7 separate regions of the Homo sapiens genome follow, and regions 2, 3, 4, 5, 6 and 7 are each reported to be linked to region 1. Evidence: microRNA targets listed by miRTarBase, many of them from high-throughput screens and not tested one by one. Region 1 holds a microRNA gene; each other region holds the end of a gene's coding sequence. Distances are from middle to middle.

Evidence for each region. The annotated mature microRNA hsa-miR-8064 reads AGCACACUGAGCGAGCGGAC and lies in region 1 at 2,096-2,115, shown strand. An mRNA with a match to its seed (bases 2 to 7 or 8) in the 3' UTR can be bound and repressed. Matches are read on the target gene's strand: a 7mer-m8 pairs with bases 2 to 8, a 7mer-A1 pairs with bases 2 to 7 and ends in A, and an 8mer does both.
Region 2: miRTarBase lists IL20RB as a target of hsa-miR-8064. Seed matches in the 3' UTR shown: 7mer-A1 at 2,986-2,992 and 7mer-A1 at 2,953-2,959.
Region 3: the mRNA of WDFY3 is a reported target of hsa-miR-8064. Seed matches in the 3' UTR shown: 8mer at 863-870 and 8mer at 388-395.
Region 4: the mRNA of ZNF518B is a reported target of hsa-miR-8064. Seed matches in the 3' UTR shown: 7mer-A1 at 3,402-3,408.
Region 5: the mRNA of MDGA1 is a reported target of hsa-miR-8064. Seed matches in the 3' UTR shown: 8mer at 2,830-2,837, 7mer-A1 at 2,141-2,147 and 7mer-A1 at 2,121-2,127.
Region 6: the mRNA of VANGL1 is a reported target of hsa-miR-8064. Seed matches in the 3' UTR shown: 7mer-A1 at 2,073-2,079.
Region 7: miRTarBase lists QTMAN as a target of hsa-miR-8064. Seed matches in the 3' UTR shown: 7mer-m8 at 831-837 and 7mer-A1 at 3,581-3,587.

What each region holds. Positions count from the first base shown.
Region 1 is chr3:52,844,305-52,848,637 of GRCh38, reverse strand. MIR8064 (microRNA 8064) reads left to right here and starts at 2,086; the gene lies at 2,086-2,175. It overlaps STIMATE-MUSTN1 (STIMATE-MUSTN1 readthrough), which reads left to right. Exons shown (of 10, transcript NM_001198974.3): 5 at 3,697-3,809. STIMATE (STIM activating enhancer) reads left to right here. Exons shown (of 8, transcript NM_198563.5): 5 at 3,697-3,809. RefSeq lists an enhancer at 3,653-4,153.
Region 2 is chr3:137,009,585-137,013,917 of GRCh38, reverse strand. IL20RB (interleukin 20 receptor subunit beta) reads right to left here. Exons shown (of 7, transcript NM_144717.4): 7 at 2,833-3,805. The coding sequence ends at 3,695. Among named protein-coding and RNA genes, the nearest start is that of IL20RB-AS1, 30 kb to the right of the region's middle. RefSeq lists a cis regulatory region at 1-140.
Region 3 is chr4:84,669,307-84,673,306 of GRCh38, forward strand. WDFY3 (WD repeat and FYVE domain containing 3) reads right to left here. Exons shown (of 68, transcript NM_014991.6): 68 at 291-3,685. The coding sequence ends at 3,562. Among named protein-coding and RNA genes, the nearest start is that of CDS1, 88 kb to the left of the region's middle.
Region 4 is chr4:10,439,292-10,443,624 of GRCh38, forward strand. ZNF518B (zinc finger protein 518B) reads right to left here. Exons shown (of 3, transcript NM_053042.3): 3 at 589-4,333. The coding sequence ends at 3,813. Among named protein-coding and RNA genes, the nearest start is that of ZNF518B, 16 kb to the right of the region's middle.
Region 5 is chr6:37,633,842-37,638,174 of GRCh38, forward strand. MDGA1 (MAM domain containing glycosylphosphatidylinositol anchor 1) reads right to left here. Exons shown (of 17, transcript NM_153487.4): 17 at 1-3,618. The coding sequence ends at 3,527. Among named protein-coding and RNA genes, the nearest start is that of MDGA1, 62 kb to the right of the region's middle.
Region 6 is chr1:115,690,854-115,695,186 of GRCh38, forward strand. VANGL1 (VANGL planar cell polarity protein 1) reads left to right here. Exons shown (of 8, transcript NM_138959.3): 8 at 266-4,333. The coding sequence ends at 526. Among named protein-coding and RNA genes, the nearest start is that of VANGL1, 51 kb to the left of the region's middle.
Region 7 is chr2:143,943,492-143,947,824 of GRCh38, reverse strand. It overlaps QTMAN (queuosine-tRNA mannosyltransferase), which reads left to right. Exons shown (of 12, transcript NM_001376312.2): 12 at 690-4,333. The coding sequence ends at 773. The region is part of intron 2 of QTMAN-AS1 (QTMAN antisense RNA 1); the gene reads right to left. Among named protein-coding and RNA genes, the nearest start is that of QTMAN-AS1, 8.6 kb to the right of the region's middle.

The DNA of each region.
Region 1 (4,333 bases):
CTGGGCCTGCTGCACCAGGATACCTAAACCCTCCCACCACCCCCACAAACAGTGCTCACAACTACTTTGCAGTTGAGATCCCTTCTAGAAGGTGTGGCTCCCAGCTCTACTATAGCTGACCAGTGCTAAGGTGAATCCACTGGTCACCACTAGTCTGTCAGGTGCCACTCAGTGACCTGGGAGTGAAGATCAGGTCTGGTTCGGATACATCAAGCATTAACGCTACCAGCTGTTCCCTCACATTTTGTCTTCATCCCCAAGGGTGGATGGAAAGGAAGAAGGCAGTGATATTGTTTCAGCCTCTTTCTCAATCTCTTGGCCTGCCTCAGCCCCTGCCCCTGGGTCATCCCACCACTGCCTTTGGGAGCCAGAGTCTTCAAGCCAGAATGTCTCCAAATAAAGCTGTGGGGACCATCCTGAGTCTTCCCCAGGCTGAGGAAGGATAGCTTGTCTGCTCAGTTACCTGTTGTTTTCTATTTCCATCAATTTCTGTTGTTTTCTATTGCTACTGTAACAGATTTCCACAAACTTCATGGCACAAATTGAAACAACACAAGTTGATTATCTTTTTTTGTTCAGAAGTCTGTCATGGGTCTCACTGGGCTAAAGTCCCAGTGTCAATGGGGCTGGCTTCTGGAGCCTCTGGGAAGATTGTTTTCTCGCCCTTTCCAGCCTCTAGAGTCTGCCTGTAAGCCTTGGCTCGCGGCCCCTCCTTCCGTCGTCCAAGCCAACAAGAGTCGCTGGGTTTATCCCACATCGAGTTGCCCTGACTTCCTGCAGCCTTCTACTTTAAAGTGTCCTTGTGATTACATTGGCCCCACCTGGACACTCAGAACACTCTCCCTGTCTTAAAGTCAGCTGACTAGCAGCCTTAATTCCATTTGCAGCCTCAATTCCCCTTTGCTATGTGATGCTACACACTCACAGGTTCCAGGGATTTGGATGTAGGCAACTGTGTGGGGCTGTTATTCCACCTCCCACACCTGTTATCCTGCCCATCCATTTGAGGAAGAGGTACCACAGCTCTCTTCTCATGTAAATGAAGAAGAGGGGCTTATTTTTCTAGGATGTGTCTTTTGTTCCTAGAAGAGAAGGCCAAGAGTTTGCTGATGAGAATGCGGGACTCAGGGAAATAAGCCACACAGCCCCGGCGGTTGAGACCAGATCCAGGTGACGCATGGTGTCTGCACTCTGATTACCAGGCCACTCTTTCCCATGTGGAAGCCCTGACATCTGGGTCACGGTGCTTCATGGGTCTTGCTGCCCATCCCTGGCCAAACTCTCCCTTTTGAAAGCCTCTCGCCACAGATGTGTTCCCTCCTTTTGGCCCCTATTGCTGTGACTTCTACTGAGGAAATAATTAAACCCAAACAAAACACCCACATGCCTGAGGTTGTTCATTGCAGTAAAAAGCAAGACACACAAGGTCCAGGTGCAGTGGCTCACACCTGTCATTCCCAGCACTTTGGGAGGCTTAAGCGGGGAGGATCGCTTGAGCCCAGGAGCTTAAGACCAGCCTTGGAAACAAAGCAAGATCCCGTCTCTACAAAAAAAAAAATTTTTTTTAATTAGCCAGGCACATGACATGCATTCTTAGTCCCAGGTACTTGGGAGGCTGAGGCAGGAGGATCACTCAAGCCTAGGAGTTTGAGGATACAATAAGCCGTGTTCATGCCCCTGCACTCTAGTCTGAATGACAGAGTGAGACCCCATCTCTAAGAAAACAATAACAGCAATGACAAAGCAGGACATGCAACACTGCCTGGCATGTCTGTCCTTTAAAGAGGAGACTGTGGGGGACATCTGAAAGACTCGCAAGTGAAACAGGAATCAGGAAACACAGCAGCCACGTGTGCTTCTCCCAACGGTGGCTGCGTGAGATCTGGGTTCCCAGAGGAAATGGTGTGCCAGACGGGGTCACAGGTGCTTTTTCTCTTTTCTCACGTTTCTGAACTTTCTTATTTTAGCATCTAAAGAGGCAGCTGTAGCTAAGTTGTGTAGCAGAAACCTAGAACACTGGGGCAATGTGAGGCGTATGGGAGGAAAAGCATTTTCCTCCTTGTCAGTCACTTAAAACTGAAGAGCAGATGGAGTGAGCACACTGAGCGAGCGGACATCCTTCCATAGTAAATAAGCGGTGCCGCGCGCTCCGCTGGCTCCCAAACACTCCAGTCCTCACAGAGAGATTTCCTAGTGGCGCTTTCTGTCCAACTGTCCTCAAACCTACTTAATTACTTAATGGTTTCTCACAAATAAGTTCATCTGTTGTTTTGAGAACTGTTCTCGATAAGGTTAGGTGACTTACCGAAAGGAAAAGGATTGCAAAACTCATTAACAACCTAGCAAGGAGGGATTATGCTTATGAAATGGGTTTTTTGGCTCAAATGTCTCCTATCCCTTAAGTGAAAGTAGAAAGGAAGACCTCAGAAGAGGCGACTGATGTGTTTCTGCCACACTTCTCCCAGGGTTTTCCAGAAAAGGGAATGGCCTGGTGTTTTGTCCATTGCAGCTGCATAAAGTCATTCCCTTGTGTACAGCTGACAGGCTTGGGCAGGGCATGGGCCTCCAGCATGGGTGCCCAAACAGGGATTGCTGCAGAAACAATAAAGCCAAGTGAGAAGCTGGAGATATCTCTTTGGACCAAATTATCTTCTCATAGCCTGGATTACGGCCTTTACCCCCCAGCCTCCCGCCCCCCCGCCACCCCCAAAATGCTACCCTGTACCCCCTCTTCTGGCCAGCTGTGGTAAGGCAGCTCTGGCAGAACTTCCAGGGTGAGCCCCAGGCAACCTTCCCACATCCCACTCTCCCCTGGGTCTCCCACTTTGGGGAGGCCTATGTGGCTCCCAGGAGCCACCCTAGGGTTCTTCATATCACAGGATCATTCCCTGGAGGGGCTGGTCTTCTCTCCGTTCAAAATGTCCTGGAGGCATTCCAAGGCCTGCACATCCTCCAGCTTGTACTACTAGGTCCCTCGGTTTCTCAAGCATGGTGACTGAAGGGGTCCCAGATGGACCTTTGTCACAGCCCTGGGCCCCGGCCCATCCCTCCCACCTCCTTGCCCCAAGGACTTCTCTCTTCACTTCCTTGTCCCTGGCCAAGGTGTTTGGGGTGACCCATGCTGGACAGGTAGAGTCCAAATTCCTCCAGAGTCACGTTTCTGCTCTCAAGAGGCTGAGGTATCAGGGATGGCCCGGGGAGTTGGGTAAGGGATGGGAGGTGGGGAGGTGGGAGACAAACAAAGCGACTGGGTCCTGCTTCATCATCCACAAACATCAGTCCACTCATGGACAGAGAAGGGAGGGGCAGCCCCGCTGTCACTGGAAAAATCAACAACGGATAAGAATAGCAGTCTTGCTTCATACAGCTTCTGCTGCCAGCCGGCAGAAAGAACAGCTTTTCTGAGCTCCAGCAATGAGCACTTCCTAACTTTAGTGCTTTTTAATCCTATCTTAGAATCTCTTAAAAGAAAGGCCATTTTAGTATCTTCAAATAAGGAATTCTCTGATTTTATTTAAAATACTGCATTTGTCTGTTAAGGATGAGGTAATCCTTTGGACTTTTGGGGGGGCTCATTAAGTACCTTTAGAGCTTTAGAGCCAGTGTTCTGGGGTGCGTGTGGGGGAGTGGGGTGGGGACATCATCTCACTCAGATGCCTGGGCCCCATGTGACTAAGCACCCGCCTGTCCCTGCAGGAGACCCTCTGCAGTGTGGAGCCTGGGTCGGGCAGTGCGCTCTTTACATCGTGATCATGATTTTTGAAAAGTCTGTCGTCTTCATCGTCCTCCTAATACTTCAGTGGAAAAAGGTTTGCTTCGTCCCTGCATGAGCAGCTCCTTGCCACGCTGAGCAAGCAGCACTTCCTCCCCATCACCCACATACGCCAACTCTAGGAAAACCAAACTTGTTTTAACTCTATGAATGTGTCCTGCATTTGGTCTGATGTGGCAACTACTCCAAAGAGCTTGTCAATTCTTAGCATCCATCCACTTTAAATGTCTGTTCTAGATGAAGCCTTGGGATGTATAAAACTAATGAAATACAGTCCCTGCCCTCGGCTTGCTACCATCTGATGGTGGTTTTTAGGCCTTGCGACAATACATGTTTCTACATCGGCAAACATCCTGTCACACACCTCTCTTGGCTGGTAGTTTAACTGAGCCATGTGGTGCCACGGGCAGCTTCCACAGTCTGTGACCTTCAGTGTGCCGATGCCCTGGCCAGCCCACGGGCTCCCCAACCGTGGCTTCCGCCCTCTGACCCCAGTTCTGTGTAGATAAACCCCCACTCCTCATCCCCGAATGCCCACATGAGACCAGCCAGAAGCTTTGA
Region 2 (4,333 bases), 84 Mb from region 1:
AGGAAAATAATAAAAAACATCTTTACTAAAGAGACGGGGAGGGTTGGCCCAGAGACTAGACCGGCAGAGTCTACAATTCTTCTGTGAAGGGAACTTAAAAGACTTTTCCACCGAACCCCTTGACAGGACAGGGAGAGCCAAGTGGGGAAAGACTGGACGTTAAGGGGCGGAGAGGAGCCTTTAGAGGAGAAAAAATGCCTTCTGACTGATGGATTTACATTTACTGGTATTCCTCATTGACACGATAAACGAGTCGATAAGCCCAACACGATTGAATAACAAGTAGAAATGCATTCTATTAGATTCATCTTCTCTGAGAATGCATTATGGTAGCTTCGCTCTTCTTGGGTGTCATGGACTGATGACTTTTCAAATATATGGTATCAATTGTGCCAGCCAATATTCTCCTTCTGGTGCTTATATTGTCCCAACTTTGGCCAGGAGGAGCCCTGTATAGATTGTTCCTTGTGTAATTTTGAATGACCCTTATTTAATGCTTTGCTTTCTGTCTCAAAAAGGTATAGGTGTTTTAAGATTACCTTGTACCTTTCAACTCCAAACTGACATGGCATCCATTACTGCTCCAAGAAACTTTGGCTCCTTTGGGAGAAAACTAACACTAGAAACCAAAATCTTAGCATTAAGATGCATTGTGGAGGTGACATTTCTCCTGGGCCATTTCAGTGGAAAAAAGTCAAAATATTTTTAATGTCATGTTTCATAAAGACATGACTTCATATTAATATGTTTGATTCAGTTCCAACAGTGCCCTGTTCTTAGTCAAATTTGGGATCCTAAAATTAGCCTTCCTTGTCACTAATCCTAAAATCTAGATTCTTATCAAAATATACAAAATATATATTATTTACTTGCTTTATCTGATAAGATAATAGTTGCAAAAATACACTATCAATACAAAGGGATAAATACTCAATAAAGTTTTTGTTTTAGACTACATACACCTACGGATTTGTTGCCAAATTACTTTGTTCTAGAATCTCTCATAATATCTCACACCATGTGGCTATGCAGGGACTTATCTGACAGGTAGTTCTGGGTCCATTGTTTCCATCCACTTTCATTTTGAAGAGGCTGCAACCTGCCCCCAGCCCCCGTTTTCTGCTCTACTTTTTCATTTTACCGTGACTTACAAACTCCCAATATACTAAATAATTCACTGAATAATAATACTGTTATTGTGTTATTATTTCTCCCTTACCCCATTGGAATGTAAGCCTCATGGAGCAGGGATTTTATTCACTGGACCCTGGCAGTTGCACCCTAAAGGCAGGACTAAGAAAGCTGGGCTTGATTCTGGGGGCTCAGGGGACTCTACTGGGTTGGCCTGCAAGAGACAGTCTTCAGTGAAACAGCAGAAGCCACTCTAGGCTGCTCCCAAATACTTATCCCCCCACAACACACACACACAAGTACTTCCCCCAATTCCCACAGGACTCAATGAGAAACTGTGAAAACAAAGCAAGCCAGTAGTGCTGAGCCTGAGCCCCTGGACTCAGTGACTGGGCATCTGGAGGGTTGGAGCTTCTAGAAAAAGAATGTGGCAGGAAGCTGTGCCTTATGATGAGAGTGACCTGGCTCCTGGTTTGCCCAGAGGAGTCCCGATTTACAGCTGTGGTCCTGCCGTAATTACTAATCACATTCCTTTTCACTCATGTAAGTGTCCAGATGTAGGGATAAATGCATTGGAGGGGCAGGGAGGAGGCCTGGGGACTTGGGATAGAAGTGCTCCAGGGGAGAGGGAACAGCCAGCTGTAGAGGAGGCAGCCCCTCCACCAATGGGGGCTGGCAGGTCGGGTGCATGGCTGGGGCTCCATAAATGCACATTCAGGGCAAGGGGAGACAACAGAAGAATCAAGAGAAATCTCTGTGTACCTATAGATGCCAAAAAATGGATGGGCACTGGGAATAGTTGTGAGAGACTCAAGCAGATGGAGGTCAGGGTCCTTTCTCAGTTCTGCGCCTGGGCTGTGACAGAAGGATAGTGCCCCCCACCACCCCACCATAAGGGGGCAGGAAGAGAGAGGAGGGAGGGTGATGACTGGAATAGTAATATGGTCTTTGTTTTTGCAAACTGAAAGTGTGTTTCTAGTTTAGGTCAAATATAAAATTAGCACACACCCTCTAACGAACAACACAGAGAAGCATACAAAATAACACAAAGGAAAAGAAGGAACGGGTCTTGAGCGATCTCATGCTCCTGGAGAGACCCCTCCAGGTGGTGAAGGGCTGTGGGCCTCTGGGGAAACACCCAGTTGATGCAGTTAGACTGTCCCACCACTGGGCTGGCTGGAAAGGGCCCAGGAAGTGAGGGTGAAGATAAACCAACTTGGAGGCTCCAGAGCTTCGAGGGGGTTAGAAAGCAAGGCGCAGGCCCTGCCCATCAATCCCTTCACCCCTCAAGAAGTTTCCTCCCATCATTCCTTCTCTGTGGTTGGCTCTTTTCTTCACCTGGTGGGGCAAAGGGGTGGGTAGAAGCTTCCAGAGGTAGGTCCTAAATGAGCAGACTAAGAGGGGCTGGGGATACCCTGAGTAAGCTGTCAAGGAAAAGAGGGTTCCCCAGGGATTTCCTGTGGGGTGGGGCCAACAGGAAAGGCTTAGGAGCACCTAACCAGGCGAAGCTTATGCCAGCTGCCTCAGTTGGGGTTCTCATGCAGCCAGAGGCTGCCCCCAACCAGGCAGCCCTGGGCTCTGGACTTCTGGGGCTGCTCCTCCGCTGCTCCCATCCCCACCCCCACCCCCACCCCGAGTCCTCTTGACCAAAGGTATCCTTTGGAGCCTCTCTGGACTTGAGGTTGAAAATGTAACTAGAACTTTAAAGACCGCTTTTGGCCAGGGTGGCCCTTTTTATTTGCTGAATTCTGTACTTTACCAACAGAAAAAAGGAGCACAACAAACATGCACATGTTACTGACTTCTGCATTCTCGTCGCATTGCACACATACATTTCACCTGCTGTCTGCAGTGTGCACACACTGTCAACACTTTACAGTAGTTCATGGATCCTCCGTGTTCATGCACATCCCATTTTCAGTGTGGCTGTGACCTTCCTCCAGGTCACCTACTGTAGAGCTCGCTAAGCCATTCCCCTCTGCACCGGCATTGGGCTTGAAGTGAACTCAACACCATTGCTCCCATGATTCCTTTTCTCTCAAGGATTATTCTGGGAAAGTGGGCTCTCCAAGCCACCCAGTGTGTAGAGTCCTTGATCATTCTCATCATACATTTATGTCCTGCTCTCCAGAAACACTGAATCAGTCAGACTGTAGAGTGTCACCAGTTTCCCTCTAGCCTTGCAAGTGCTGGGTGTATTTATGTGTACGTGTGTATATATAGAGAGAGACTCTGTGTGTGTGTGTTTAGCAGGTGTGTAGGTAATTCCCCCATTACAGATGAGAAAACTTAGGACCGAAGGGATGAAGTCACTTTTCCCAGGGTTGCTCAGCCAGCAAGTGGCAGCCCCCAGTCTAGAGGTCACATCCCCTAAGCCTCAGTCAGTGTTCTGTTAGACAAACCACCCTGCCTCTGATGGTTGCTTCTAGACTTGTAGACAACAGGCTCTTCCTACTTCTCTCATCCCTTGTCCGTGGCGGAAAACAGAAACACAACTTGTCCCCTCATGGTTTCCATGTCATGCAGACCAGGTTCTCGGCTTCACCTGGGCCCTTCCGCAAACCTATGAGATCCAGGCCCTGAGGAGTTCCTCAGGAGACATCACAGCCGTGGCACAGGCATCCACCTCCTCCCTTCTGCAGCTGATTAACTTCTGGGGTGAATTGGTTATTTTCTGAAAAATAATTTTCATTAATATTCATTAGAGGATAGCAGTAGTAGTAATACTAAAGAATATTATTACATTTTTAACTATTTGATTAATTAATTTCCAAGCAGCAAAAACAAAAACCAAAAAACAATTTCAAGCCCTAGATCAGGGGCTTCCAACATTTGCTAAGAATATCTCCCAGTTCACTACCCTACAGTTCCCTTGAAGCCCTGCTTGGTCAGAGTTCCTCATTCTAAGACCCTGCCCCACAAAAACCCAGAATGTAATTCTGGTTCTTAAAAAAAAAATTAAAGGCAGGTGCAATGGCTCACACCTGCCTTGGGAGGCTGAAACAGGCAGATCGCTTGAGCCCAGGACTTAGAGACCAGCCTGGGCAACATAGCAAGGCTCCCTCTCCACAAAAAATAAACTAGCCAGGCATGGTGGCACATGTCTGTGGTCCCAGCTACTCGTGAGGCTGAGGCAGGAGGATCAATTGAGCCTGGGAGGTCAAGGCTGCAGTTAAGCTCTGATCACACCACTGCACTCCAG
Region 3 (4,000 bases), not on the chromosome of region 1:
ACTCATTAGCCCTGGGAATCCAGCACAATTGAGAAGCTCAGACTGCAGAAAGCCTGATTTTTAAGGATGAGTCAAACTAGAACTGGAACTGGAACCTTAACAGCCAATACTTCTGCAATCTTATGCAGGTGCTTCTGAAAGTATTTACAACTAGAAAAGAACTACATAAAGTTAGGGAGTTATTAGATCTCTGTTTTTCCTTCCCTGAATAACTGACTTAACAACTTTTCTTTTTCTTTCTTTTGGTGGTAAATAGGTATTTATTTGAAATGAAAAAAAAATTACTTAAGTACCTGGACTATTGCATTTAATCATGTATTGTAATTGTGTTACTCTACCTTTTTGCATCAGAGACAAATATACAATGAACATTCAGATATCACAGACTGCACACTAGATAGTAATTCTTCAGGTCTTTTACATAACCACCAAGAAACAGATATTGGTTTCTGCAATATAGTATAAAAGTCCACAATCAATCCAGTCTTAGCCAGTATCTTCAATTTACTTCTGTTGCTGTACAAATAATTGGCCATTACTAGGGCTTACAAGTTAATAACAGGACAAAAAATATACATTGCACTGACACAAAAAGTCAGCTGTGTTAAGAGTCATGCAACAAGTAACCAAACTTGCTGAAATTAAAAATACTTTCTAAAAACAGTTTTAACGGCATAAATATTTTATACACAGTTCATTTACCAAAACAAAATGTATTTAAATGATACAAAGCAAAAATAAGTTTCTACCAACTTTATACATAAGAAAGTGCAAAATAACTTATCTAGAGTGTTTTGCTATTATCCAGACGGATGGCTGCTATGGGCAGCTATTCTCTTCTTCAAAAGCATGACATTAGAGTTGCACACTACATAGAAATGTTAGAATACATGGATGAACAAATGAACAGGTGGATGGATGAATGAACAAACTACAAAGATCAGGCAGGAGCCCTATGAGGTACTCTCAGAAAAAGAATGCAGACCATACTAAGGTAGATGTACATGTTGACAATAGATGTTGGTAAATAAATTTACATGGAACACAGAAAGATATCCAGAGAAATAATTAGTTTATGTATGTGAGTGTACTTGTATGTGTGAGTGATTCTGTTGATTTCTGCATTAGAGGCAAAAAGAAAAGAAACCCGATTGAACAAAACAGTTGCCCACAGCACCAGCTGCCAGAGGAAATACTACCATGAGGGTTTTGGTTTCCACCTTCTAGTTATGGAAGTTCTGTTAGAAAGTTAGTAATGGAAGTTGTGTCGGAAAGTTTAAAAGTGTTCATCCCATATAGTTTCCTATTACAAAGAGGAATAACCTTTAAGTAACTACACACACACATTCATATATTCAAGTCTTTAAAGAACACCTCTGCCACTGGGTATGGGGTAAACATGATTCATGGACAAAAGGAGGACGCTTCTTTTAAAAAGTGTAGAATAACACTGCTACAAATCATCTAGAGGGCCAGACAGGGGCAAGGCCCACAGTTACATAATAGCACAATTTCTGCAACTGTTGAACATCAGCATTATTTATTAGAATTGAAGATGGTGATGGGGGAGGGAGAGTGTGGGGGGAGTAAGACACAGAAAGGAAAACAGAACACAACTTTTCTTTAAATTAAAGTATTAATGCCGATAATCCTTTTATTAACAAGTATATTTGAACTTTTAGAAATGGAAGTGTTTTAATCAATTTTGATATGTAATCATAAATAGACTGTAGGCTCAAACCCAGGTAAATAAAGATTTAAATTTAGTAAGCGTAAGGCACTAAAGCAGCCTTTCTATTTTCTCTTGGAGACCTAGTTATCATATCAGGAAGAACAAATTTGTTCTTAAGCTGGTTTCAGCCCATCAGGTACAAGATCACCATTGTACCAAATGCCTATTTTTGAATGCATGTGCATATATGTGCATTTTAGTGCATAAGTGTGCCTCTCACCAGGGCCTAAAGATGGAAAATTGGAAAAGCCAAAGCCGCTGTCCTTTGCATGATGCCTCTGTGAGGGTGTGAAGGCCTTTCCTTTCGCACCTGTGAAGGTGTGAAGGCCTATCTTGGGCCATTAATGATTCTATATTTTTCAAATCACAGGGCTTTTAGAATTGTTCATAATGTTATCACTAAGTTTCTGAAAATGTTAAAATCTAGATTAATTGTTTCATTTTTAATATATATTATATATATATATATATGTACATAACACACATTTAAAAAAATCCCACCACCAAGCCTTTTCTCTGTAAACTAATCTCTTAGCCCCTTCCAGCTTTAATCCCCCTGGATTTGTGTGTTCTGTATCCAACTAGTAGAACAAATTAAATAACTAAATATTAAAATACTGTAATTATATTCATAGCAAAAACAAAAAAATAGACATTGATACAGTATAAATCTCACTGTTTTCAGGTAGATGACATTAAATGGTAAAGGTTAATTTTAAGCAGTTCTGACATGATTCAGTTTTACAACAAAGTTTATATGTTAATTCTGTACACTTCTTTCTTTCCTTTTTTTACCCCTTGTTTGAAAATAAGCTATAGTAGAACATTAGTGTCACCAAAGACACATACTTATTATGTTCTATGCAAGATAAGCTAATTTTGGGTTACATGCAAATATATTTCCATTAGTTGAGACAGGGCTGTTTCCTGCACTACACTGGTCATCTGACCACCTTTCTGCAATGCTAAGAAGGTATTCTTTGACCAAACAGCAGTCCACATACAAGTTTAAAAGGGGCCCTGTTTATGTAGGAACAACACTGAGGTGGTGCGTAGCCAGGTACAAGACGCCCAAATATTTCCAGTTTATCTTACGGCTGGACTCCTATTCTCCCACACTGTTTCCTAAAGAAGGTCCACATTATTTTGGTTACTAGCCTAGTTTAAGTGGAGATACTGTGGGCAACTTGAAAGAAATGACATCAGGCACACAGGCTGAGCTTGAAAGGAAAAAAAGACCACAGATAATGTCTTTGGGGATTTAAAAAAACATATTTATAATTAATTGGTAAGTGAGGGATGTCAGACAAACCATAAGTAGTTCATTGAGTTAGTGGTTTAGTTTGAAGTTTCATGTTACAGGCAGTTAAGTCCTTATTTAGAAAAAAGGCCTTTTATATCTATTTACAATATACATAGTTACTTGCAAAGAAGTCAGATTTACAACCATTTTCTAAAAGCCTTTTTTGTTGTTGGTTTTTCCAAATAAGGATGAGTAGCTCTATAAAAATGAGATGCAAGAAAAGAGAGTTAATAAGTGAGGATTTTTCTCTTGGAGACAGCTACTGTCATCAGGGAGAACTGGAGGTCGAAAGTGTTGCTCCTAGGAACCACCTCATATTCTTCTTGTGCTGTTCACCTGAATCGCGTCTGCCCCATTCCTGTACTCTACACCCGTTTTATTCAATGATCCCTTTGAATTTTAACACTTCAAACACGTGGTATGAAGAGATGTGTAAACGGAGACTGTTTTCAATGCCTTCCAAGCTGGGACAGGAGAATCGGGAAGGGGTCTACAGACCATGGTCTCCACTCAGCTTGTTGAATCTTCAACAATTTCGAGGCCCATCTTCTGAACCTCTCTCATGCTGTAAGTTATAATAACAGTTCTGACAAACACGCACCGGGGATGAGATTTTCAAGCGTTTGATTTCAGATTGAAAGCGACTGCACCTAAAGGAAAGGAAAAGTCAATTAATTATAGGTCTTCTCCATGCTTGATCATGGGCACCGGAAACATTAATAATCGAATGGAAAGCTTGCAGTAAAATGCCAAAGGCCATACTGGTTTGTGTTGTGTGGCTGAACAAGGACTAAAAGGAAAGCTGTATTATTTGTTTCAGTCTATGAAGAAAAGCAGTATTAAACCAGGGAAGCTATTTCTTTGACTGACAAGAATTAAAAAAACGAAAACAAAAAAACAGAGTTAAGATTTTCCTATACAATGAGGCCAAGGTGTCTGAACAGTGATGTAAGGCCATTCTACCT
Region 4 (4,333 bases), not on the chromosome of region 1:
TAACTCAAAATAAACTGAACAAATTGGTGAACTTAAGCAACTCACCTCCCTTTTCCTCAGATCTGCCAGTATTTGTCACAAGTCCAATTCTCTTCCTTTCCCTTATGACTCCTTGGGCCCTGGGAGTGAGATGAGGAAATTAAGTGCCTCTTTAAATATCCTCATACTCTTGCAACCCAAATATATGTGGACTCGGGTGCAAGAGATCATTTGGAGAGATGACATCAATAGTGCAAGTACACGTGGTCCAGGGGCTCATCACTGACTGGGAACTCTTCTACCCAAGACATGGAAGGCAGGTTAAAGGCCCACATACATTCTCTGCTGAGGCCCCTAACCATGGCAGGAAAATTGCCACTGCTGTCCAAACCAGCACCTCTTGTGAATCTGCAAGCAAAACAAAACAAAAACATAACCTGGCCTCATATTAGGGTCTGCAAGGTTAACCATCCCATCATTGCATCTAATTCAAAACATACCCTGGTAGAATTCAAAACACCTGTTACGTAGAATGACGCCTTGCCTTTGACTCAGAAATGTATAATACAAATAGGCTATGTAATAAAGTCACCTGCATAACGTTTGAAATCAAAGGGCAAAGAAAATTTTTGTTGCTTTATTTAACAAAATTTATGCCAACTCCTGTATCTATATACAAACATGTTTCAAAACCAGAGCAGCAGACACACAAACTGTTAACACAGGAATTACAATAATGCTTAAAACATGTTACACAATGTTTTGTTTCTGCTCATATAGACATTTACAGATTTAAAAATTATTCCAAAGGCCGAGCAACATCACATCTTCAACTTCTGAGATGGATTATATATAACATGTCCTAAAGAAAAAGGGATGGAGCTTGTGAGAAAATATATTTTGTTCAGTCTAGTTCAACAGACAGCAGGTGGCCCTTAATGAAGGCTTACAAGATGTTCTCGACTGGGGATACAAAATTGAATATAATATAGTCTATCAGAGTATACTTTGGGTCAGGTTTTTTTTTTTTAACTTTTACTGTATTTGCCTATATCCTAAATATAACAATCTCTCACTTCTGGTCCACCAAAGTAAGAAAACCTACTTTAAAAAATAAGTTGAAAATGATTTTATTGGCAGTATTAACAAAATGTAGTGATTGGAGGTCCTTCAAAATTAAGAACCCACACAAATACTCAACACAGGTCTGCCCCTACTCCCTTGTATTGTTAGAAATGTGTTTATTTCATAACATGTACCTACAGGTTAAGCTATCTTCTAAAGCTCTTTAGGGAGGACAGCTACTTTTTGCTTTCCCATTTTTGACTTCCAGAAACACTTTTAATTCCTTAAAAAGTATTCTAGTTCTGAAAATCCTAAAAAGCTTTGCTACATATTCTACTCACACAATTAAGCTCCATCAAAGTATGCAAGTTGTGTTTTTACTTATGCTTGAAAGTTGATGCTGCGAAGTGAAAATACTTCATGTTGACAGTTAACACTCTGACCTGATTCAAGGCCAATTCTCAGTCCAGCTTTTCAGGAAAAAGCACTATGTGGTGAGGAATAGGAGATAAAAAAGTGGCAAACAAAACAAAACAAAAAAAAACCACAGCCTTTTCTTCACTCCTCTCCTCTCTATATCTTGGGAGCTATTTTTCATGCCACAGGAGTACAATATATAACATGGATAAAACTTCGAATGCTCTACGTAGTGAAGTGGTACCAAAGATCTACTTCCTAAAAAGCACCAAATAAAAATGCAGTAATAAAATGATCCAAAGGGGTTTCTACTCACTTGTTCACATAAACCAGACCCCATCATTCCTGTGCTTTCATTTTCCAAAAGTGAGATTAGACCCTTATAAAAATGTACTTCCAAAATAAATTTCTAGAATATAAAAACGTTCTACATTTTTCCAGCCCATGTATCATTATAAAATAGGAAATCAGAAAATTAGCTACTGCAATTTTCATATGGTAAAAAATATTTTTATGTGTACACATACACATATATAAAAATGCAAGTTTTAAATTTCAATAAAAATTTACCAATTAACTTGATGATCATGTATTGAATTATACAAAAGAAATGTTGATTATCTGTAATGAGAACAAACTGCAAAGGATTGCAATTCCATCTACTGGAATCTAAGACTTTCCCATGTGAAAAAAAAAAAAAAAAATCAAAGTCTCCAATCGACTACCCAATAAACAATCACTGGTGTCTTTTTCAGGTGCAACAACTCTTTAGTTTCATTCACTGCACCCCACAAATCGCCTAAGACAGGAATAGCCCCTGGAGGGAGGGAAATGCAAGTTGGGGCTGCCTCGGGGTTGTGCCATCTGTGCTCTACCTGGAAGGTCAGCGCCCAGCTGCACAGGCAAGTGAAGACTAGAATCCTGTCTTAAGCACTGACCCAGCCACCTATCTGCCCAAGAGGCTGTGCTTGTGCAGGGGGTGGGCCTTTTTCTAAAGAACACAAATGTGTAGATAAATGACAGTCCTGACATCTGTTGGTAGAGAGGGGAGTGGAAGGAGTGTTCCTGGAGTTGCTTCCCTGAGAAAGCTGAGCAGCAGGGTAAGCATGAATGTGGTTAAGACAAATTAGAAACAGCGTTACTATCAATGAAAACTAGGGATCGTGTTCCTGTAACTTTAGCAAAAACAGTGGGAGGTCTCCATTTTGTTGATTCCTGCCATTTTCTAGTAATCGCATGAGGGAAAACCTTAAGGGGTCTCAAAGGCACAGAAAGGAAGAAACAGTGGGCAAGGAAGTTGTGCTAGTCCACAGGAGGGCCGGTTCAGAAGAAATGGCAAAGGGAGTCTAGTGTCCATGAATCAAAGGGATCAAGAAGAGAGAAGACAGCATCCACCCATGGTCTTTGGATGAATCCCAAATGAAAACTAAAGGGCATATGAAACCCTTTTCACAACTTTATGAGCCTACCTTGAACTGTGTTTGCGAGTTTTACCTATGTTGTAAGCCTGTTCCCTAGCATTTTAAATTGGTCACTTATGTTTCTGGGAGTGGTAAGGGCAAAGAGAAAATAGTTTTAGATATTTTCCTTTTGTAATCTCTTTTTGTCTTTGCAAAAAGGTACGTTCCCTTCCCATATGTCATAAACCAATGTATTTTAAAGAAAGCAAAAGCTAAGTATTTGAAAATGTTATCTTTCTTCTAACACTTGCTGTGAAAGGAGTAAATTCAGGCAAGCAGTTGAAAACATTCTTTAAAATGGCCAGTAAAAGCAAAACTCTTTGTGCTATACGGAACACTCGGGAGTATTACAAAACCAGGGAGGGAGTAAAAGAATGGCCATTTCTCTATAACCAAATTGAAGACAGTAAAGTAGAAAATATAATTTCCATTGTGCACCAAATACTCAGAACACAAATTAAAGCAAAAACAAAATGGATGTGCACACCAAAACAAAGGTTTTTCTGTAGCATTTATATGAAGAGCATGTGTAAAACATTCTCAATCTGCCCCTCTGAATGGATTATGAAAGATCAGTATGTACTCAGAAAACGGGGTGCTAAACAAAGAAAAGTCTCAGATCCCACTGAAAATCTGTTCAGTTTCACAGGCTCTCTCCAGAAAAATGCATATGTACCAATTTGCATGTACAATTTCAGAGCCTTCAAATACATTCTGGGGTCCAATCACATACTTCAGGTTCAGACTCCTAGCTCCCAATATTCCTACAGTTCTGAAGAATTAGCAGTCCTCTCATTTCTACAGTCTGTATTTCTTCTACTGAATCTTGGTGGAGGGACTCCAAACCAGAATAAACTAAAAGATAACTTGCTTTAAAGAGTAACTGTTTACTTATTTGCCCTTGGAGGAAAGAACATCCCAATCTCTAGTTGCTTCTATCAAATGCCGTTGGCCATGACTCATCCACTCTTCCTGGTCTTCATACAGTCGCCCACAAAACCAGCACTTAAATACACACTGTGAAGAATCATCAGGCAAGGAATCCACTACCTGGTAGTTGTTTTTATGAACTTTTTTGAGTTTCATTTTCAACATCATTTGCCTTTTAATTTGACTGGCTTCTTCCGCATTCTGGTAGGTCAGGCGTACATGATGCCGTCTGATGCCTAGCTGACACCTAGTCCTCTCTGATAAAACAACTTTGAGGACATTGCCTTTGTATTTATTTATTACCTTCATCACATTGGTCACTTCTGGCGAGTCCACATCAGGGTGGTTTAACACAATGACTGGCTGGTTCCGACGGGGACACTTAATCAACTGATCTGGCTTAGCTGCTATCAGTCTTAGTTGCCTTGCAACCTGAAAAATTGAAGGATCCTTGAGACAGCGGCTAGGTTCAGCTTGAATTT
Region 5 (4,333 bases), not on the chromosome of region 1:
CCAAGACTGGCTCTACTCAAACTAGCTGTGTGACCTTGGGCCACTCCCCTTCCCCACTCTGGGCTTCAGCTTCTTCATCTGCACGAGGGGATCAAACTTTTGAGGTCCATCCTCACTCTGACAGCCTGAGCCAGGGGCTTTCCCAGAGCACAGGGAAAAGGAGAATGAATGAGAAAGAGGTGTCAGGCCCATCTCTGAGAGGTAGGGGTGGAAGGAGCATTCCAGGAGGAGGGGGCTTGGTCTTCAGGCTTCACTCAGCACCCTAGGAGCCTGTCTGTGCTCCCAAGGGCAGGATAGCCCAGCTGAGACTTCCATAAGCTGCTATACAGCACCTGGCCCCCGGAGTCCTTTTCACCAACCTGAAGGGGACAAGGGATGGAAGGGCCCCAGCACCCTGAGGGCTGACCCTGAACACCCCGTTTTAAGGCCACAAAATGCCTCAGTCACCCTGACCCAGAGGGCGAGGCTGCCACTGGGGAGATGTGCTGGATCCAGCCAGCCTGGTCTCCCCTGGCGGGGGTCACTCATGGGCCACCCATCAACACACAGACACTGACACACCATGGCGCACAAAGACACAGCATGAGCAACACTGATACAGAGATGCTGGCTCACAGGCACACACAGACACAGACACTGACAAGTCACCAGGTGATACACAAAGACACTCATTCCTGCTGAGGAACACACAAACACACAGAGACCAGCACATGCCTAGACATTTACAGTGCCCACTGGCATACACTGACACCCACATCCCCCACCCACCTGCTGGCACACACAGACATCCACATCAGCCTCACCCATTCACACGTGGGGACCTCAGCATTTCAGCAGACACATTTTGTCAATCCCAGGTCAAGCCATCCTCAAGGCAGGGCTGTCTGCACCCACTGAGACCTCCAGCAGCATCCCCCCATCCCCCCTCCACCTTGTGCCCTTCGTCCATAAAGACCAGGAACCTGGGGGCCACATGTATGCAGTTCAGCTCAGCCAACATGTACTGAGCACCTTTACTGTCCACTCTATGGATCCTGAGGGGAACAAGGGAGACAAGTCTCCCCTGTCGGAGCAGCCAGGGTTGCGGGGCAAATGGATTGGAAGGTCCTCTGAGGGAAGCAGGCACAGGGTGCCTTGGGAACCCCAAAGAGGGAGCACTTGGGGCTATTCATCTCTGGTGCTCCAATGCCTACCCCAGCGAGGGCACAGAGGAAGCACCCAGGTGGTGCCAGGCCAGTGGTTCCTGCTGTCAGGAGAACCCAAGGAGCTTTTCAACATTTCTTGATGTCCGACTGCGCTCCAGTCCAATTAACTCAGAACCTCTGAGGTGGGAACCAAGCAGCAATACTTTTTAAAGGACTCTGGTGGTTCTATTCTGCAGGCAAGGCCAGGAACCACTGATTACAGAATCCATTCCACCGGGCAATGGAGTGGTTTCCACACCAGGCTCACTTGTGCTGGGCACGAGCGGGAGGTGGCGAAGGTGGAGGGGGGACTTGGAAGGCTCAGAGGAGGAGCTCACAGTCTAGTTGGGGCAATGGACTCTGCACAGATGGGACAGTTAAGGAACAATACCCGACAGACGCGATGGAAGTGTATGCTGAGAACCTGGAGCGACTCATTTCAGACAGAGGCCTTGACTGGGTCAGGAAGGCAGCCGTGCTGATTGGGCATCAGAAGGCCCCGCTGCATCCTGGCCCGGCCACCCACCAGCTGTTGGTGATAATGATCACACAGGCCTGGCAGGGGGAGATGGGCAGCCTTTGCCTCGGTTCCCCGCCTGCCTCCTGGCACTGCAGTGCTGCCCGAGTTCCAGGCCTCTTCTCTGCAGCTGTCCCCACCAAATGCTCCAGAAGGAGCCCTGTGATGCTCCTCACCAAAGGTGCTTGCATTCAATAGGGTCATCTGTAAGCTCTCCGTCATCCATAGGGGATGAAAGGTGGAATTTCAGGCCATCGCAGGCAGCTTGAGACTACAGAACAGGGCTGGACAGAGTCTATTCAGCCAGCACCCTACAAGCGAACACATCACTCAGGAAGGTGGACACACACGCTGACGTACACGGACATTCATAGAAACGAATGGGTCTCAATCCAGTCTCACAGGCAGATATGTGAGATTGCACACACAGACCTGTGTTTGCACACACTCCTGCCCAACAATGTACCCACGGTGGTACCTAGACACAGACGGGCACAAACACATACACACATATGCACGCATGCCTAAAGAGTCATTCTAGAAGGGGCTGGGCCTTCTCTCTCCCATGGATGGCTAGGTGGGGGCTCAGGTGATGTCAAGGAGGAAAGATCTAGATCCCATCATGTCAATCTCAGGTGCCTAACCCAGGACCCAAGGACAGGGATCCCTTTCACAGCTCCCAGAGAGTGAGGGGACTGGCACCTGCTCCCTCCACCAATCCCAGCTCTATAAGCCCCTCCTCCTTCACTGCCCCTGGGTGGAGAAGGGAACTTTCAACTAGACAGTGCTTTTTGGCATTTTGCCCTGTACACACCCTCCTATCCAGGGCACCCTTTCATGCCAAGTAGATAAGAAATGAAGGCCCCTCTCCACTTCCAAATTCATTGTCTGATATGGGGGCACCAAATCACAGAAGCGGGACGTCTCTTCTGCCTTTCTCCAAGTCAAGCCTCACCCCAGAAAATGGGCTGGCCACCGCTCCCCCAGCTCCTCTGAGACCCAGCTGGGGGCTGAGGCTAGGAGAGAACCGTGTTCTCAGGAGTCCCACTGCTTGTAGGGTGGAGTGGGGAAGTTATCAGTCTTCAGACTGCCCAGGCCCAAGACCCTGTGCTGGGTCCCTTCAAAGGGTGCACACTGAGGAGGGAAATATGGTGTCCCAGAAATAGGTCAAGGAATCTGGGGTGACCTATGGTCTCCACCATCCAGTGCTCACTCTGGACAGAATCGTGTGCAGCAGGTGCCCTACCTTCCTTGTCTCCTGGACGTGGGACAGTCACAGAGCTCGCAAAGTCCCACCTGTTCGTCCTCTGATCCCTGCCTCTCCCATCTCAGGAGTCCCAGAGTCTGACCAAGGGAGGGGCTCCATGTCTGCCCCACTTCTGGCTCCCTTCTGGCAAAGCCACCAGGCTGGAGTTCGGCCTTGACTTAGGGGACAGGGTAAAGTCAGAAGCACACCACGAGTGCAGCAAGGACAAGGCCTATGTTGCGCCGAGGTCCCTGGGTTGGCGGATGCCATTCAGGCAAGTCCCCTGTCTTTGCAGTAAAGAAGGTGCTGGCAGGTCAGATAGAAACTTGTGCTTTAATATATCTCTGTGTGTGTGAGCATGAGTGTGTGCGTGTGTGCAAGTGGAACAGCTGTCTCCAGGGCCTCAGTGCCTGGCCTCTGTCCTTGTTCTCTGCTCATCCTTGCAGCCAATGCAGGCCCCCTCCCTGGCGGGCCGGCCCTGCCCCTGGGCACCCCAGCTGGCGGGGGTCAGTCTTTGGTACAATGTGGACACTTTGGTGTGCCGGGGGCAAGGTTGGGGGGGTGGCCACACAGCTCTCATCATCTCTGCAACGCCAAGAGGAAGATGGCCATGGGCCCCCACAGCTGTGGGCTGGACTGGCAGGGGGCTCCACTGCCCGGCATCACCACCACTGCAACAGGGGAGAAAGAGGAGACAGGCCAGGGCTCTGGTCAGCTCTGGCAGGGGCAGGAAGTGGCAGGCAGGTCGGCACTGTTACTCTGCCCACCTCTTTGGAGGGCCTGAGGGTGGGCACTGGCCTCAGTGCACACAGACAAACTCACCGCACAGACATGAGGTGGCGTGGGGTGGGGTGGGGGTTAGCTCAGCCTGCCAGGGTTCACATTCACTAAGACTTGGAACAATTTACTTGACCTCAGTGGGCCTCAGTTTCCTCATCTGTAAAATGGGTCCAATGGTGTGTACTACCCCAAAGGACTGTTGTGAGGATTAACTGTTGTGAGGTAAGTGAAACATGCATATACAAGTTTGTGTGCCTTGCCTGGTACAGAGTAATTGCTCAGTAAGTAGGAGCTGTTAGTATTGGAAACCTCTGGCCCTGGAAGGCACACGTTCACCTCTGGAGCCAGAGGTACGCACAGATGTATTCAGACACAGGCACAGGAGGCGCTCTGATACCGTGAACAGGTCAGTATGCTCATCACGAGGGTGGGGGCCAGGCTTCTCATTGTTTACACAAGTACACAGCCTGAGTGAGTGTGGGGCACACCTTCACACAGTCAGAGCCACATGATTCCCATCACTCAGACATTCTGAACCCCTATTCAGACCCAAACACCCTCCCTCAACAGACAGGAACCCCCGCCACGCACAGCTCCCTCCAGATT
Region 6 (4,333 bases), not on the chromosome of region 1:
TTCCCTCCCCTCTGTGGGTACCACTATTCTTGCGCTTGGTGGATAGTAGGTAAAGGGGAGTGAGGAAGTCCAAGAAGTCTTCCCTCCCCAGTAATGACTCAGTTGTGAGGGTCTGATGGGAATTGAGTGTGATGAGCTGGGCTCTGGTCTAAGCTGGTTTATTTGGAAAAAGTTCTTTATAGATGTGAGAGTGGATAGCCGCCTGGCAGTACTGCCCTTAAAACAGGCTGTTTCTTCCCTAATGGCCTTTCTCCTCTGCTTCCAGGCCTTCCTAGAACGGTACCTCAGTGCGGGCCCCACCCTGCAATATGACAAGGACCGCTGGCTCTCTACACAGTGGAGGCTTGTCAGTGATGAGGCTGTGACTAATGGATTACGGGATGGAATTGTGTTCGTCCTTAAGTGCTTGGACTTCAGCCTCGTAGTCAATGTGAAGAAAATTCCATTCATCATACTCTCTGAAGAGTTCATAGACCCCAAATCTCACAAATTTGTCCTTCGCTTACAGTCTGAGACATCCGTTTAAAAGTTCTATATTTGTGGCTTTATTAAAAAAAAAAGAAAAATATATAGAGAGATATATATCTATGCCAGAGGGGTGTCTTTTTTAAAAATTCTTCTTCATTGCTGACTGAAACTGGCAGATGATTGACCAGTATCCTTTGACCATCTGCACTTTATTTGGAAGGAAGCAGGGGCTGTCCACCCTGAAAAAGAGTGACTGATGACATCTGACTTTTGTCGATGGGACTTCTCAAGAAGCCATTCCTTGGAGCTTCTGTTACAGCTGTAAACCAAAGTGGAGCTGGTGCTTCTTGGGAGCCTCGCCTTACAACTAATTCCTGCCTTTCGTCCAGTACCAAGTCCCCCGTTGCTTCTGGTCAGCCCACTTGTAGACTTCCAGGGGACACATCTTTATTCTGTTTCAGGAAACCAGTCACGACACGTCCACATATGTATTTGTGTATGTTAATGTCCAGTATCACATCACCCATGAAAGTCGTGGGCAGTTCAGGAGATACCTGCCTTCATCTTTGTTCTTTGTTGCCTTAGGTTCTTCAGAGAAAGATCACAACAAAAAATGTACACTGTCGTTTACAGCTATTAAGTGATTTGATTTTGTTTTTTTCCCAAAGAGAAAACCTACCTGCCCTGTTTCTGATCCCACCCCTCTGCTGGCTTGAAGCAGGTAACCCTTTCCCAGCCCTGCAGCTGCCCACCTGGCCTCCATGCCATCCTGCCCCCACCTGGCTGGCAGCCCTGGCTCTCCATGTGTGCCCTCCGGCTCTGTGTGAAGCCTCAAGTCAGTCCCAGCATTGTTTCCATAGGGAAGTGTGGGGTGCCCAGCAGGTAAAGCACAGGGAGAGAGGGCAGTGGGAATGCCACCTTTAGGCTGCAGCAGGAGCCCCACACTGCCCAGTTTTCCTCCCCACTGTTCTACACCAACCAGGGGAGACTAACACTGTGACTCTGGGATTGGCAGGTGCAACTTGGAGCCACTTAATTTCCTGGGGACGTAAGTTCTTCCCAAGCTTAGAGCAAGCTGCCCTGCCAAAGGAGACCAAACCATGCCAACCACGCTGGCAACTGCTGCTGTCCAGTCCCTGTGTTTTCTGACCACCGTCACTGTGCAACTCATCGCCTCTGCCACTTAGGACCAGGAAAGAGGCTGGTTTTGCTCCCACTCTTAGTTGCTGATAAAGTGGGGAGAAGGAAAATGGACACTCTACAGAGTTTGGGGAAGGGAGAGTAGGGAGCCCATCTTGTCCAGAAAGATTCATCTGTGGTCTGTCTGTTAAACACAGCTGATTTCAGTGGGCTTTCCCCTGGCCCTGGGGGAGCAGACACTGACTGGGTTGTGGGCAGAGGAGCCATCCTGGCGGAGCCCTGCTGCAGGGGAGCTCCTTCAGGAGCCCCATCCGGACCTCTTGCACTGGGCTGCCTTTGCCTCCATTTGCCTTCCTGTATCTGCAACAAACCTTTTAAAAGTGTTCACTCTTGCTTTTTCCAGTATTTCGGTAATCAGCCATCTTGCTGTAGTACAGGATGACATTGTCGAATGCTCTTTGTATGTGTGCACACCCCCTTACTCCCTTACTGCTTCATACACTCCACAAGTGGTACAGTATTTTGTGTCATTGTAAAAATCAAAATTGGCTTTGGATCTTTGTAATACACCTGTACCTGAAAAAGTAAACAACATTCTTCAATTACTAGCCTTCAGCTTGAAAAGACATGCTGGAGAAGAAGGAAGGGGGAACCCATAGGTGTGGCGTGGAGCCAAGATGTACTATTCAACTATGTGTTTCTGTTTATAAAAAACACATACCATGGAACCATGGTGCTTTTGTTCTTAGTTTTTGCCGTTAGATCCCTTCAAACTGGAAGTTCCTTACAATATCTTTCTCAGGAAATATTTTGGGAAATGGGGTAAGAGATGGCAAGTGTGAGACGGGCTGTGTCAGAGGTTGCTACGTCATGGATACAGTGCAGTTCCAAGTGCCATAAGTGTATGTACATATAGTTAATAATGACACTGTTCATCACCATTCTAAAATACTGTTCTTCCAACCCTATCTTCAATGACCAGTCCAGAAGGGGTTAAGCTGGATTCATTTGCTCTGGCATGTGCATTCCCAGCAGGGTGAAGAAAGGTTTAAATTAAAGAATTTATTTTCTCTCTCCCCCTTCCTCTTTCTCCCAGTCTTTGCATAGGAGAATGTTAGACATTCAGAAATTACTGTTTCTGTTTTAAATTGAGTATTGATTTTTTTATATTGACTTTGTATTGAGTTCTTTTTGAAAGAATAACAAAATAAAATGCAGGATCTTTGTAAAGCCTTTGCACTTTCAACCTCTTTATAGCTTGAGTTACTTTTGCAGTGGGAACAATGTAAATGACATTTAAAAGATTTAAGGTTTCAGAAAGCTGCATCCCACAATTGAACACAATGCATTTTTATTTCAATTCTTGGAACTGGTAGGCTATTCTTTTTAAAAGGGGGTAAACTTCGCCCTAAGGCTGGTAGAATGTATGTTCACATTATAGTAGACAGGATTTCATTTGCCTTATATGTTTATAGATTTTTTATAATTTTCATCCTACGTTATTAAAATTAGAGCATTGAGTGTTAAAGAACTTAATGAGGAGTCTATATCTGAGATTGCTCTCTTCCCTGGTGATGTTTTAACTGGTAGATAATTTGTTCTTAAATATGTACTTTTGAAGATAGGACAGTTTTTATAGTCCATGAACTGAATGTTAAAAAGTTCTGTATGCATTCTCAGAGAGGATTTTAAAGCTATATAGTTCATCCATCCTTTGCATTATCAAAATGTTAAGTCAAATCTGTAATACTTTGGCTAAAATTCATAAAGTAAGCCCTAGAGAAAATACTTGACCACCAAATTTTTGCCCAACTATCATCACCTCCCTTCCCCCGCCTCTGTTCTTGCCTTTTGACATCTACATGGAAGACAAGTTCTTTACAGCAAATGGTAAGAGGCAGGTGACCTGGTGTGTTTGCTGTGTTGTAGTTCATTGCCTGGGGCTTGGGACTCCTTTTTTAATGGAGAGACTAGCTGTGCAGGTGTGTGTTGGATAGGGATAAAGTGCTCACCCCTGCCCTCTCTACAGTAGTTGGTGGTAGATTTCTCTCTCATTTTGCCTCATAATCACTTTCGAGTGCATGTATTTACCTAAGGGCTGTAGCTCTGTGGGATGCTACCAGCATATTGGACTGACAGAAATTGATTACCTTGCCACTCCAACCTACGTACTGAGTGAGTGCTCCAGCCACTCAGTGAAACCAACAAAAGTGAGTCCTTGGTTTACCTTCCAATCTGGGTCCTGCTGTGTAAGTATCCCTAAGTGGGGATGCATATTTGTTTGTGCGTTTTTATTTCCATATATGTGAGCATTTCTCTGAGTGTATTACCAGACGGATAGCACATTTATATGTCAGACATCTTAACATCTGTGTTATCTGTAGCAGGTGTGTAGCTCAGCAGATACGTGTCATTGTGTATATAGCTGAGTGTGTGAGGGTGTCTGTGTTTCTGCAGTCCCCTGTGTTTGAGAGATGACTTAATAACCCTGTGTTTTGAGAGGTCGCTCTAAACCAGTGACTTTTCCCTCCCCTGCTTTATTCCTTTCCCTCACTGACACTGGCTTCTCCCGCTAGAGTAAATGGCTTTAGCACAGCACTGTCTTCTGGGGAGCCTGCTGTCCTGCAGGCAAGTCCATTAAACTCTTTCTTGCTTTAGGACTCTGAAAACAGCAAGAAACAAACAAACAAAGGTCAAGCTCTAAGAAAATTACTGCTCAAACTTC
Region 7 (4,333 bases), not on the chromosome of region 1:
TGATTTGTCTAAATAAAATAAAAGGAAAAAACCTTTTAGCATCACAGATATGCTTTGGCTGATTAAGATCAGTTAGAGGTTTTGTCCTTCTCTGCTACTCATTTGCAACCTGATTCTAGGTGATCTTCTTGGCCTCTATGTGATTCATCTGTAAACCTGGAAGAATATTTTTTTAAATATCAATGTACCCCTGAAGTACTGGTATAATGAAATAATGAATATAAACCTGTTATAAATATGAAGCACTTTTTAAATTTCACATAATAGTAATGGCATTTATCTTTGTGTCTTCATCATTTAAAAGTAAAATTCACGGCAGAAACTTGTATGTACAGTGTTACGTGTCTTGTGTTTATATAAGTTAAAAGTTGGATGATGAACTTTCATCATCCAACTATGAATGGTTGTCATTCATAACATAAACCAAGAAATATGTGTGCAGCAGAATATACCCATTTGCAGAAAACAGTAGCCTTCTTCTCTGGTTGGAAATACAACGACACTTTAGACCAATCAGAAACTGAGATTTCCTGAGGTGATGAAACTCAAGAACCATTTACTTGGTGGCTTTTTGAAATGTAATTGACGTAAGTGATGCAAATTTGCAATATAAATTTTCAGCATACTTTCATCTTTTAGTCATTAATGCTCTTCACTTCTTTCTCTTCTCTCCCTCCTCCTCGTTGCAGGGTGAAATCGCTCCGTTTTCTTGGGCAGCCCTACATGGTAAATTCAGGTCTCTGCTTACAACAGAACCTAGGGAAGATTTGTGACAGATGGGGCTAAGTCACAAACTTGCAGCCTAAGGCAGAATCTGAAGAACTTTCCAGAGTGTGCCCATATTTACCTGATCAGAGAGAAAAGAAAATCTGCAGAGGAAGCTGAGCCTGGCTGCTTGTCATAGCTGACACAGAGCCATCTGCCACAAACCTGTGGCGGCTTCAGATCTCCAATCCCTGCCACCACCCCAACTCAAATTAAATACAGATTCCTAGAGACGTTATGATGGTTACACATGTCCTCGGCATCACATGTAGGAGACTGTTCAAAAAAAATATGTGGCCTGTTGTATAACCGCACTCATGTATCCCATATGTGGTGCCACATTGAATTTCCGGTTGAATCCGTTTTTATCCTTTGTACTGGATGACATGGTGCCTGAATTCTTTCTTTTCGCCGACACGATGGCAGCCAAACTGCAGCTTCAAACGCTCACACTTGGCTGGGTTTCTACCTAGGTTGCCAGGTTATCATCGGAGCCTTCTTGTGTCCTCAAAGGGCCACGAGGCCTGAAAGGAGGATCAGAATGCTTTGGGATTAATTGGGCAGCCATCGCAGAATTGTTTGTGGGCAAAGGGCTGCTTTAGCACTTTTCTTTTAGCAAATTAATGACTCTCAGGCACAGGGGGTTTTAAGTGAAGGTATTAATAAGAGGTCTGGCAGGTATTCCCATGATTCACAGAGTTACATTTGCATTTAATTAATCTTAAAGTTGCAAGATAAACAGCTGTAATTCGGACAAACATGACAAACACAGTGAAGCCAACTATCCCATAAAATGAACACTGACATACTTGTTTTAATTTTTTTCCCAGCGTAAAAATAGAAAAATCAAAATACTCCTAACAAAACCAGTGATTTTGATAGAAATATTTCTCCAATATACTTGCATCCACCTACAAATATAACCTTTTCAAGATAAATCGCTTATGATTTCAATAGTCAAACTGCTGTGTTTGTTGATGTAAAGATGTTTTGAATGGCTAGATGGTAAAATAAATTCTTAATAAAGTACCCACTGCAATTTTTAATTAGCATATTCATTTACATATAGATGTATACATCTACCTATGTGTTTCTCACTGAACGTTTTCCTTGTGACAGAGACAACAAATACAATTGTTTCTTTTCCGGATGAACAAGGATCTGTTTTGCAAATGTTTGTAAGATATTATGACATTTCCAAGATTTTCTTTGCATTCTGGAAAGCAGGAGGTAAACATTTGTAGTCATTAAGGTAAAGTCTGTTGATAAACCATCTTCTGTTTACTGACAGGTAAATTGTAACTTTCCCTAGCTTTTGAAATGAGTAACTTCTATACACCACAAAGTGAGGCACAGCCTGGGAAAGGTGGCTAGACAAGGGGCAAGCCAGGCTTTCTAGCTTCTGGAAGGATCGAGTGGCCTAGCAGGCATCTAAGATAAAGAAAGCAATGATTCGGAAGTCCAGTAGGGCCCATTTGACCGGTAGCAAAATCGAAAGCACGAAATAGATCAAGGTTAGGGAGCCAGACAAAGCCCTTGGAAGAGAGGCAGTATTGCAGATCGAAGCAAGCAGTTCAGAGTCTATGAGGCCTGGGAATTTAAAAGCAGGAAGAGTAAGAAGCAGAAACAAGAAGCTCCATCTGAACAGACTCCTCTCTCCAACCTTCATGAGACCCACAGTGTGTGATGGGCCACCACAGCACTGGCTTCTAGACTTTTACAGGGAAGCCAGTGAACAAATTACCTCGTCACCCAGAAAACAAAGAGCTCAGGAACTATTTTGGAAGTTCCTTCCAGTCTAAGACTATGGAACTCAGAATCTAGCAGGTGTGTTCCTTTGGATAGCAAAACTAAAGATATAAATATGAATAAGAAATTCTTTGCCACTTCTCCTGGGCAAGGTTATACTTTATGCCATCTACTGAGATAAACCAGATGAGTCAGTTTGCTTCTGTCAGTTGCTGTGTCACAGATGACATCTTCTCAAAATAATATTATCTCACAGCCAAGAAATAGCGCTTCGTTTACTGTGTTTTTCTATCCTGAAACTAAATGGGCTTACGCTTCATAGTGGCTAAGATACTCCACACACAACTAGTACCCATAGATCTTTTCTCACTGATAGGAAAAAAAAAAAAAAAGCATTAAACACCTTTCAGAGAGTACATCTGAAACATTTACGTATTTTCCTGATTTAGGCAAATATAATATTGAAAGTTACCTGTATGTGGGCATTTTTTTCTACACTCATAAATGCAAATCAAATTTTGCCATTAGCTGTGGCCAACATTCCTTCCAGGACAAAAGCTTACATTAGGCCGGGTGCGGTGGCGCACGCCTGTAATCCCAGCACTTTGGGAGGCCGAGACGGGTGGATCATGAGGTCAGGAGATCGAGACCATCCTGGCTAACACGGTGAAACCCCATCTCTACTAAAAATACAAAAAAAATTAGCCAGGCATGGTGGCGGGTGCCTGTAGTCCCAGCTACTGGGGAGGCTGAGGCAGGAGAATGGCGTGAACCCAGGAGGCGGAGCTTGCAGTGAGCCGAGATCGTGCCACTGCACTCCAGCCTGGGCGACAGAGCGAGACTCTGTCTCAAAAAATAAATAAATAAATAAATTTAAAATAAATTTTAAAAAAATTACATTAAAGGTGTCACTTATTTGCATGATACCGAGATTTGGAGTTTAAAGAAAAACCTTATAAAGACTGTAATGTCAGAGTTGCTACTAGTTCACATAAGCAATAAAAAGTTTTGTAAATGTGTAATTCTTAACATTTAAAAATATGTAGGAGTGTGTGTGTGTGTGTGTGTGTGCACACGCACATTCATGCTTCTCAACACCCACGACCTAGTGGAATGGAGTGTTATTAAATAAGTTAATCAGTATTTTGTTGAAATCTCAGCAGATAATTAGTACTACACGTTGACTCATTAATTCAGTTTCCCTTATCAACCACCCCCATCATTTATTGTTTTGAGTATGTTTGATGGAAAACTTAGTCTTCCTCTTTTTTTTTAACACTCGATTGTTTTTTTCTTTTAAAATAAAGTCAATTTTAATTTTAAATGTCTTTAAAAGTCCATCCATTATCAAGACTTTGACACAGTGTCTTGAAATACAGCTTGCCCTAAACTTAATCTATGCTTCTGGCTAGGTGTTTCTATAACAAATATCAGGGCACCTGGTTCTTAACCTTCTCATTTATACTGTGTTGACAGAAATAGATGCAAATACCTTTTTAAAAATGCTCCTGGTTTAATAAGCATCCTTCAAATACAGTTAAGTTTAAATGCCCTGCTCCTGTTCTCAGTCCTTCAGACATCAATATGGCAGGCAGAATCCATAAGTCAATGGAAACTCTTAGCCATAGAGGGCTGCAGAGATTAATTTCAACACCTTGAAATGCATCTGGAAGCAAAGATTTCATTTTATGTTGAAGGTGTTAATTATATTTGATATTTTTAAAAGTAAAATCTGTTTTTGAGAAAGCATCTGCTACCCAGAAATATTATGAGCCACAAAAGAAATTTTACTGAAGTCTCAAGATACTTTCTGTGGATG